2 separate regions of the Homo sapiens genome follow, and region 1 is linked to region 2. Evidence: fine-mapped expression QTL. A gene starts in region 2. The other region holds a variant in brackets. All regions are shown on one strand. Distances are from middle to middle. Region 1 overlaps WEE2 (WEE2 oocyte meiosis inhibiting kinase). Region 2 holds the start of WEE2-AS1 (WEE2 antisense RNA 1).

Region 1 (5,382 bases), 21 kb after region 2:
TTGGCCAGGTGCAGTGGCTCACGCCTGTAATCCCAGCACTTTGGGAGGCCACGGCAGGCAGATCACAAGGTCAAGAGATCAAGACCATCCTGGCCAACATGGTGAAACCCTGTCTCTACTAAAAATACAAAAATTAGCCAGGTGTAGTGGTGCGCGCCTGTAGTCCCAGCTACTCAGGAGGCTGAAGCAGGAGAATCACTTGAACCCAGGAGGTGGAGATTGCAGTGAGCCAAGATCACACCACTGCACTCTAGCCTGGTGACAGAAAACAAACAAACAAACAAAAACACATCATGATCTAAAATGATCGTGTTGTATTTTAGGAAGTAACATCTCTGAGCTGGAAAACTCAGAAAGGTTATGAATATGAGATAACATATAATGTGGGGTGATTTTAAAACACAAATGATTTTTAATGACATCGGTGCTTTAATTTAAAATAATTTGACAAGAAACAACTCTCCAAATCTAAGTTTATATTTTTAGTGCATTTCAAAGGTACTCACTCATTTGATAATTCTGTAAAAGTTTTCATAGAGCGCTTTATTGCATAAACACATCCATCCAGCCTCTTAATGCACTTGTAGACTGTACCAAATTCGCCAACCCCAATTTTTTCAACCTCCAAGAATTCTTTTTCATAGCGGGAAGCCATGTTGGTTTCTCGTAAAACACATCTCTAAAGTATTTTAATAAAAAGGAAATTAGAGTAATTCTACCATGTTGTAAGCAATAAAATTAAACAGTATTACAGTCCTAAGTTGCTCCAAGTTTTCAAAAAGACTTTTGAGGTGACTGCAATGAATTCTACTTGGGTCAATATTCATGGTAGCAAGAATCTCCCCAATTGCTGACTATCTTCTTTGTTTTCTTTGTAACCTTCTGTACAACCCTATACTGACAATTCTCACTTATTTTTCAATATTCTTTTCTCTATCTGGGCATACTGTTCTTTTCTACATGTTCCTAAGGGGACACAACTTCTCACTCCCAGAGCTACTGTCCTTAGTTCAAAGAATAACTGGGACCTGGGTGGAGCAAATTAAAAGAAATGAAAGACCCCCCTTCTTTATGTGTCTTAAAGTCTGAATGCTAATGTTTCCATCTCAAGCTGAATAAGCATACTTGTTTTCTGTTTCTTTTCCCAAAAATACCAGCCTGGAGAAATGATTTTGTCAAAATTGTCAAACTTTGACAATTTTGGTTAGTTCAGACTATGTGCTCAGGTCTAGCAACCACTCCCGCTACTGGCCAACTAGCAACATCATTCATTGCCCAGGTAGTAAATAACCCCAGGCCAATCTGAACTCCTTTCAGTTTTCCTATCTGTAGGATGAAGATCATGGCAACACTCTTCAGGGTTCTTTTAAATATTACATGAGAATATACAGTATTACATATATTGTAATATATCTTAGGATAGTGTCAAGTACATAGTAAATTCTCATTAAACTATTATGACCAAAAATCTCCATAAATTTATATGAATCTAAATCCAAGCTGATTTATCTCCCAAAGTCATCTTTTCTCAGTGTCCCAATCCTGAAGAATTTTTCTCCAACTTTATGAGTTTGAAAAATCTTGGGTTTTACTACTTCCTCATTTTCAACATCTAATTCTGGTCACTTTCATCAGCAAGATCTCTTAATTTTCATTACCCTTAGCCAGTCTCAAGCTCTGTTCCCTTCTTGTCTGGATTGGCTACAGCTACCAGCCCTCTCTTTAACTCTTCTAATAGTAAGAATTATTTTTGCAAAATGATACCACAGAATCAGAGATGCCTAATTGTTTCCCATGAGAAATTCAAACTCTTGATAAGAAAGCCTCAAGACCTTCTACCAACTGCGCACTCACTACTTGACTACCCTCCCCCTAGATACCAATGAAGCCAGTATACCATCTGCATCTATCCCTGACCACTCCCCACCCACCATACCCCTCTTACACCTGAACTCTGTTCTCCTGCCTTGATAGCATTAAAAGTTATTTACTTCCTTAGCCTAAAATTATCTTAATATACAATCTCTTCCTACCCAAGCTCTATTTCATAGAAGTATTTACTAACCACTTCTAGATTTTAAAGATATACACGCATATGTATATTCACATTGCACATATGTACATACACATATACACAAATACATATATCTCATAGCTTCTAATTTACATATAGATTGTTTTGAAATTTCAAAGGTTTTAACTCCTGTTTGGCCAGATGTTTTTCCTTAAAGGGTGTAACTAAATACAATGCTTTGCACTTATTTAATGTTCAATAAATATTAGAATTTCTATCTGAAATCAAGAGATAAATTATAAAATAAGTGAGGAATAAAATCCAACAGTAAAATAATGGAGGCATAAGTCAGAAACATTTGCATTTGAAGGAACACCTGTGCCAGTGGCCGCCTTTTCTGTGATGTTTACAATAGCCAAGTGCTAACATTTTAACATATTAACATATTTATTTACGCAAATAAAACTTGCTTCAGAAAACTTTAAAAATTTAAAGGAAAAACAAATATGAAGTTTCCACCATTCAAAAATGTTGAAATAGCAGTGGTTATAGCTCCATTTCATTCTCCCTGTGATTAATGTGCAATAGATAGTTATGGTCATTCAGCGTATAAAATTTTGAGTCTTTTGCACACTAAACATTAACATACGCATGTTTTCAAGGTGTTATAAACATCTTAATGGCAATTTAGTATTTCACTGACTTAAAACTGTAATTAGCTTAGCCATTTTTCTATTATCAGGCATTTGGTCTCCCCCCTTTTTTGCTGTTACAATAAACATCTCTAAGGATAATGTTTGCAGTATTATTTTCTTAGGTTAGATTATCAAATGAGGGATGGATCAAAGATTGTGAACATTATAAAATCAAATATTGATACATTTAAGAGCTAAAATTTTACATATAAATCTCTGGCTCTATGCCCCTTTTTTCCATTATCTTTTTCTATTTTGAGACCAAAAATATCTTAATTTTCCCTTCACTTCTCTACCCCATGAGTGTAGAGTTTTTCTCCAGATTAAAATAGTAGCAGAAATATGTAATTTTAAAATTACTCTAAAGTAATGATCCAGCATATACATATCAGACACTGCCTGGCA[G/A]AGTTACAACTAGCTGAGAACACAGACCCTGACTAGGGTCCAGATAAATTCAGCTGCAAAGCACATTTACAAAGCTAGCGTGTGAGATGGGGTGAGATGGGGAGGGGAGGAGAGAAGGAGAGTAGGAGAAAGGAGGGGAGGAGGGGAGATGGGGAAGAGAGGGCAGAAGGAGAAGGGCAGAAGGAGAGGGTAGAAGAAGGGGAGGGAGGGTGCAGGGTGAAGGAGAGGAGGGGAGGGTGAGGAAGGAGAAAAGGGAGGGTAGGGAAGAAGGGAGGAGGGAGGAGAGAGAGGGAGAAGGGGAGGGGAAGAAGAGAAAGAATAGGATAAACTGCCTATATTGTGGCCGCTGGGACAAAGAACTACGCTTACCTTGGCAGGCAGCCCTCCCTTGCCTTCCTCTGGACCAGCTTCCTCACTTAAAAAAGAAAAAAAAAGTTTATCAATATATAATTAATATTTATTGAGGCCGAACTATGCTAGGTTCTAGGGATGTAAGAGTAAATAAGACAATTCATTTCTCTTCGGTTTATATGTGGAGGCAGGGATAACCAGGAAATTTCAATACAAGAACCTAGAACTGGATAAGATAACAAGGATACCATGGACAGCACTCAATTATTTCAAGAGTGAAAAGCTTTCCCAGAAGAGAGAATATATAAGCCAAGATTCTGGGAACGAGTAGGAACTAGCTAAGGGAAAAGAGTGAGGTTTTCAGCAGGTAAAACACCATGTGCTGGAGCAAGAGAGCACAGAACATATGTGCAACTGTTAAATGGGTATCTTTATCCCCAAACTAGGAAACCAAGACAGAGAGAGGTTAAATAACTCTAGGTCAAACAATTAGCAAGTGGCAGAACTGGGACTTGGAGCCAGGTCTGACACCAAAGCATTTGCTCCTCACTGCCACACCACACTCTCTTTCCGACACCCACCCCTCCCCTAGAATCTGGCTTTGTAATCGGTTCACAGGTAGACTGCAAGTAGGGCAGAATCTGCTCTAACCCGGGATGAGATATTTTCAATTACTCTTCGATAAGCTAAGTGACCAGCAGACATCCTCTTTGCCATGCATACTTGTATTCTGGATCCTTAAGCAAGATTTCAACTAGCTATAGATTTTTCTTTTGGAGAAACACAAGGTAGAAATGGCAAATGGAAGGCACTACATTCATGGAAATAAATCAATGCTTGGTATTTGTGATTTAGTACCACATTGTAATACTTTATGAAGTGTTTATAAATTATAAAAATAAGGAAAAATACTCTCTTAGAAGCACCAAATGACGCTACAAAAGTGTCAGGATTTCATATTAGCTGTCTTTGTTGCTGGCTTCGGTGAGAGTATAATGATTTACAGAGACTCCTTAAGAACTAAAACCAATCGAATTCTTGGTAGCCAAAGTAGGTGGGTGGACTTGTGCTGAAGTCCTGTTTATTTAAGTAAGAAGGAGATAGTGTTGAGAGAACCTATTCTGGTCAAAGACTGATTAACACATACTCATTGACTCCAAAGAAACAACTTGACATAGCACATTAAATGCTCTGCAAAGTTTACATTGTTAGCTGTCCATTTATTTCGCTGAGTACATATGAACATAAATGACTGCCCCACTTTGGAGGCGATTCCATTCTATAAAAAAGCCTTGGAGAGACATAGTAATGTTCCTGAGTAATATGCACAATCCTTATTTGGATGATTTCTGTCATTCAGGGCCCTTTATGGAATAGTACAGTTTGGCTTTCTATTCTTTAGCAGCTCTGAAAGCAATGCTTTTTTGCTTCAGCCAATCTTCCATCACCCACAGAGAAGTTCAAATCCTTGCTCTATAGCTTTCATCACTAGTCACACAAGACTCAAAGCAGCAACGTACTCTTTGAAGTTTGAGCTACACGTTCCCCAACTGCCAGCCTCATATTAACCAGAGGGGACCCCTTGAATGCAATTCCATAGCCCACTCAACTTCCTAATAGAAGCCAGAGATCTATTGCTTATTCTGTCTTATCCTTTTATAGAGAAAGCATCTACAGTACATATCAGAATGGAAAGATGTTGGAATCTCTGTGATAAAGCAGGTAAAACCAGCATTGATATCTAGGAAGGGGAGAATATGTAAGCATATACATTTCATTCAAATAGAGTTCTCGTTCCTAATCTTACTTTAACACTCACTTCTTACTACTTGACTGTAGTAGGGTCAGTTCTCAAAAGTCATAAGTAATAGAGCACTTACAGATCTCCTCTTATTTTCCTCTTGCCACCAGATTGAA
Region 2 (5,382 bases):
AAACAATACATTCTAAAACTAATCACATGAATGACTTTCTGACACAGCAACAGGAACATATTCCAAAGTCAGATTCCCTGTGTCTATGAAACTGCCTTCCCCTGGTTGCTCCTTCAGACCTTAAAAGGAATTAGGATACCTAATATGACTAATCTAAAGTGTTTCATTTTAAAATAAGCAAAAATTATGATACATAATACCTACTTCACAAGGCTATTGCAAAAATTAAACAGCTTCAGTAGTGAGCTTAGCCTAATACAGTTTTTATAAATATTTCATAGGAAATTTCCTGTTTTTAGTGCATCAAAAAAGGTCTAATAAATTTGGTTCTTTGATTAAACACAAAGACTCGACTGTCCAAGTCAAAGTCACATCACTGTCAGCAAAGGTAGTCACTACCACATAATAGCAGCAATCATTACTGAATATCAGCTAAGGGATTTATCTATTATCAATTCTAAAACTAAATCTACAAGTTATGTAAAATTATTCCCATTTAGGGCTGAGAAAACACCTCAGAGAGACTGCATCACCTGCCCAAGCTCCTGCAGGAAGTATGTGGCAAGTGATCTCAAGGACCCAGGGCCCTTGACACCAATGCTACTGCTTTCCCGAAGCCCTCTGCTGCCTCCTTAATTTCAAGAGCTCCTGTAAAGATGGGAGTACACATCACTGAATTCAGAGCTCAGAGAGCTAGCCATTCTATCAGAGAAACATTTTTGAAGTGGCAGTACTGTTAATATAAAAAGCAGAAGTCCACCAATCAAATAAACACCAATCCCCAGGGTGCTGTTGGCTATCTAATCCTATCACTAAACTTAGGAGCAGAGGGCAGATAAGAAAATAAAGATATGAGTACAACATACTATAGAATCAAACTGCTAATGAGAACCTGTGTCATGATTCTGGAAATGTCATTTGAGTGCTCAGACAAGCTAGACCTCATAAATCTTACACAGAGATTTATAATAACAATGTCTCATTTGGGGCACACAAAAATCTACTGGAGAAGATTAGGAAAGGATTATTTAACTTGGATAATTTTTTAAATTAAACTTTTAACTCTTATTTAAAGACATTTTAATACTGTAACGTTAGTGTTAAGAAGCAATAACTTTTTCATGTTTCACATTTCAATACAGAAAAAAATAGATTAAAGATACATACAGGTTAAAGTGGGGATCCAAGAATATAGGATTAAGGTGGGGAAAATGACAGAGTCATGGAGGAACTGGTTCTTCATTGGTCTTCACAGGAGGATGGGGAGTAGGAGAGCCAAAGAAGAATCTACAGGAGCTGGTGCCCGAATGTGGTAAGTGAGGAAAAATGGTAGTCTAAGCTGGCTCAAGGTGGGCTAGTGTCTGGAAAAGTGAGGACCCATACTAAGTGGAATGAGAAGGCATTTTCTACATAGTGAAATCTCTGGTGACCACTGAGACTTGAGATGCTCTCTTCAGTGTGGAAAGATGGGGGAAGAGGAACGTTTAGCAACACAGGAGGTAGATGGTCAAAAAAGCAACTACATGCCTTAAGAAAAAAGTTGGAACAATGATTCCTACAGTCTTTAGGTCACTAAAGACCTTTAATGTCCTCTCACTGGTTAAATTCAAGCAACACACACACATTTTAAAAATTAATGATTCCTATTACGTGTGAATAAACCTGAACTTTTTTTTTGTTTTAGTGAACATAATTTACACTGGCAAAATCGTCCCCAATCCTCCATATCAAATGAGTATAGAGGTGGGTGGGTGAGCTCAAAGGTCTTTTGCCCCTGTAGTTAAAAGCCTAAAGAAGTCTTCTGATCACTGTGGCTGATAGTAATACATCTCAGTATTAATACAGACAAGTGACTACCTGTAATACAGGTCTTCGAAACATGGCTTCTATTTTCTTTTCTTACAGTCTAATCTTTAGGCTTTTCCTGAAGGAAAAAAACAAAATAAGAAAAAAACATTACCTCTTATGGCAAAAGTACAACTCACCAGTCCTAAATTCCTAACTATATTCATAATTTTTATGCACTCCAATTTTGTGACCACAACGTACCAACATTCCTGCACATCTGATGAGGATTCCTTCCTCCCTCCCAAATAAACTCACACCTGTATGTCTTTTTGGTCCCAAATAACTTCCTCTTCCTCCAACCCATCGACAAAATTTTGATTCTGAGTTAATCCCACTTCCAATCCACTGTCTTCTCAAATTTCATTACTATGCAAGCTCCCTTAGAGCAGAGATTTGTATCTGCTTTATTCACTGCCATTTTCTAAACTTCTAAAAAAGTTCTTAATGCATAGTAAGGCCTCCATAAATATTAGCATCACCAAGGGACTTATATCTGAAACCTGTTACTGAAAAATTACTGCCTTCATCTCCGTTAACAAAGACCAAGCAGCGTAGAGACCCCCGGGCTAGCCAGCCACACCATAGGGAGAGGTGGACACCCTTTACCGAAGATGGCGCCACCACCTGAAAACCGAGGAGAACTGGAAGGAAATCACGCGGTCCTCCGCACGACTGATGAAAGGGCCAGACACCTACACAGAAACACCTCCCGACCCACGCAGGATCACGCGCAGCCAAAACACACGACTCCAGCACTTCCTTCGCGCTGGCTATCCCTTCCTCCCTCACCTGACGATCTAACCCGAGCAGCCCAGCCACGCAGGGGATCACTTCCGGCGCACAGGGAACGCAAAGCTCGCCAGAGGAAAAAGGAAACAGAAACTCCGCAACTTGCGCCTTGGAAATACTGCCGGCTAGCGCTGCGGGAAACGGCTCCCCTTAACTCTGAAGTTCCGCGATCTTCTCTTTGTGCGCGGGCGGATGGATCAACGCCGCCAAGTGGTGAGTTTGGAAGGTTTCAAGTTTAGAAGGTTTCAAGTTTAGAAGGTTTCAAGTTTGGAAAGAAATGAAATTATGTGATGAGGTTTCTAACTGGGCCCAGGAGGGGGCGAGGTAGGCAAAACAGAGACTAGCTCTGCCTGGAGGGAAAAAAAAGCAACATTTGTGACCAGCCTAGGCGACATAGTGAGACCTGTCTCTACAAAAAATATATAATTAGCTGGGCGTGGTGGCGCGCGCCTGTGGTCCAAGCTTCTCCGGAGGCTGAGGTCGGGGGATCGCCTGAGCCCTGGAGGTCGTTGCTGCATTGAGCCGTGAACGCACCACTGCATTCCAGCCTGGGCAACAGAGCGAACTCTATCTCAAAACAAAACAAAACAAAACAAGAAAAAGAAAAAAAGAAGAAAATTAAAAAAAAAAAGAAAGAAAAAGAACGTCCCAGGTCTGTTGAAGCACTAAGAAAAGCAGAAAAAGAAAGGGGAGCCAGGGAAGGGCTGGCAGGCTGTGCAATTTAAGGGAGCACCAGAAAAACTGGCAATCAAATAATATATTAATGTAATATTTTAAAAAGTAAAAATTAATGCAGGAAATCCGGGAGGAACAAAATAAGAGTCATGTGTACCTTAACAACAGGGTAAGGTCTGAGGATTGCGTCATTAGGCGATTTTGTTGCTGTACGAACACCACAGAATGTACTTTGACGACCTAGATGGTGGAGCCTGGACACACCTCGGCTCTGTGGTGTGGCCTGCTGCTTCCAGGCTGCAAACCTGACAGCATGGGGCTGTACTGAATACCGCAGACCATTGTAATTCATGGTAAGTATCTGTGTGTCTAAACATATGTAAACATGGAAAAGGTACAGTACAAATGCGGTATAAAAGATAAAAATGGCACACCTGTATGGGGCGCTTACCATGAATGGAGCTTGCGGAACTGGAAGTTGCTGTGGGTGAGTAAATGAGTGAGTGGTGGCCCAACATGAAGGTCTAGGACATTATTGTACCCACTAAACACTTCATAAACACTGTACACTTAGGCTACACTCAGTTTATAAAAAATACTTTTCTTCCTTTAATAAACTTTCACTCACTATAACTTTATAAATCTTCCAAATTTTTTTACGTTTTAACTGTTTTGTAATAACAATTAGCTTAAAACACACACTGTACCACTGTACAAAAATATTTTTCTTATATCCTTATTCTACAAGCTTTTTTCTACCTTTGCTTTTTTTCTTTTTTTTTTTAACTTTTTAGCCATTTTTTAAAAAAACTAAGACATAAACACACACATTAGCCTAGGCCTACACAGGGTCATTATGATCAATCTCAGCCTTCCACTTCCACATCTTGTCCCACTGGAAGGTTTTCAGAAGCAGTGACACACAGGGAGCTGTCATCTCCTATAACAGTGTCTTCTTCTGGAATCCCTCCTGAAGGACCTGCCTGAGGCTGTTTTACAGTTAACTTTTAAAAAATAAGTTAAATAATAATATAATAAAAAGTATAGTAAATACATAAACCAGTGACATAGTCATTATTAATATCAAGTAACACATGAGTAATACATTGCATTCTGATGTTTTAGCAGGTATGATGTCACTAGACGATAGGAATTTTTCAACTCCATTGTAATCTTATGGGACCACCTTTGTATATGCACTGTTGTATATGCAGTCTTTTTCCAAAACATCATTATGAAGTGCATGACTGTATTAAAATTTTAACTGAATACAGGATCCAAGCCAGACTGGAGCCTGAGGCACAAGGAAGAATATGCACCCCTGTGTATATGTGTACTTATGTATTTTTAAAAATTGGGGCTAGGAAGGTTAGTGGGGGGCTGGAGGGAAGGTGGGGATGGTTAATGGGTACAAAAAAATAGAACGAATAAGACCTACTATTTTCGATGGCACAATAGGTTGACTATAGTCAATAATTACTTAACTGTACATTTTAAAATAAGAGTGTTATTGGATTGTGTGTAACTCAAAGGATAAATTAAGATGATACCCCATCCCCCATGATGTGCTTATTTGACGTTGCATACCTGTATCAAAATATCTCATGTACTCCATAAATATATACACTTCCTTTGAACCCACAAAAATTAAAAATAAAGACAAAAACAAAAAAAAATGTTTAATTAAAAAAATTTTGGCCAGGTCCAGTAGCTCATGTTTGTAATCCCAGCACTTTGGGAGGTTGAGGGGGTGGATCACTTGAGCCCAGGAGTTCAAGATCAGCTTGAGCAACATGGCAAAACCCTGTCTCTGTAAAAAATACAAAAATTAGCCAGGCAGCCGGGCGCCGTGGCTCACGCCCATAATCCCAGCACTTTGGGAGGCCAAGGCGGGCCGATCACGAGGTCAGGAGATCGAGACCATCCCGGCTAACACGGTGAAACCCCGTCTCTACCTAAAAATACAAAAAATTAGCTGGGCGTGGTAGTGGGTGCCTGTAGTCCCAACTACTAGGGAGGCTGAGGCAGGAGAATGTCGAGAGCCCGGGAGACGGAGCTTGCAGTGAGCTG

What was found. PIP is the estimated chance that this variant, and not a neighbour inherited with it, causes the effect.
Region 1: its variant is the best candidate, but not a certain one, in a credible set for the expression of WEE2-AS1 in thyroid (GTEx, PIP 0.87).

Annotation. Positions count from the first base shown.
Region 1 is chr7:141,714,369-141,719,750 of GRCh38, reverse strand. WEE2 (WEE2 oocyte meiosis inhibiting kinase) reads right to left here. Exons shown (of 12, transcript NM_001105558.1): 2 at 5,346-5,382; 3 at 3,484-3,529; 4 at 507-679. The region is part of intron 3 of WEE2-AS1 (WEE2 antisense RNA 1); the gene reads left to right. Among named protein-coding and RNA genes, the nearest start is that of WEE2, 8.7 kb to the right of the region's middle. RefSeq lists a silencer at 4,436-4,636. The variant G/A (reference allele first, on the strand shown) is at 3,115.
Region 2 is chr7:141,735,666-141,741,047 of GRCh38, reverse strand. It overlaps WEE2-AS1 (WEE2 antisense RNA 1), which reads left to right and starts at 3,006. Exons shown (of 4, transcript NR_199841.1): 1 at 3,006-3,665. SSBP1 (single stranded DNA binding protein 1) reads right to left here and starts at 2,690. Exons shown (of 7, transcript NM_003143.3): 1 at 2,638-2,690; 2 at 1,858-1,924. The coding sequence starts at 1,881. RefSeq lists an enhancer at 2,788-3,673.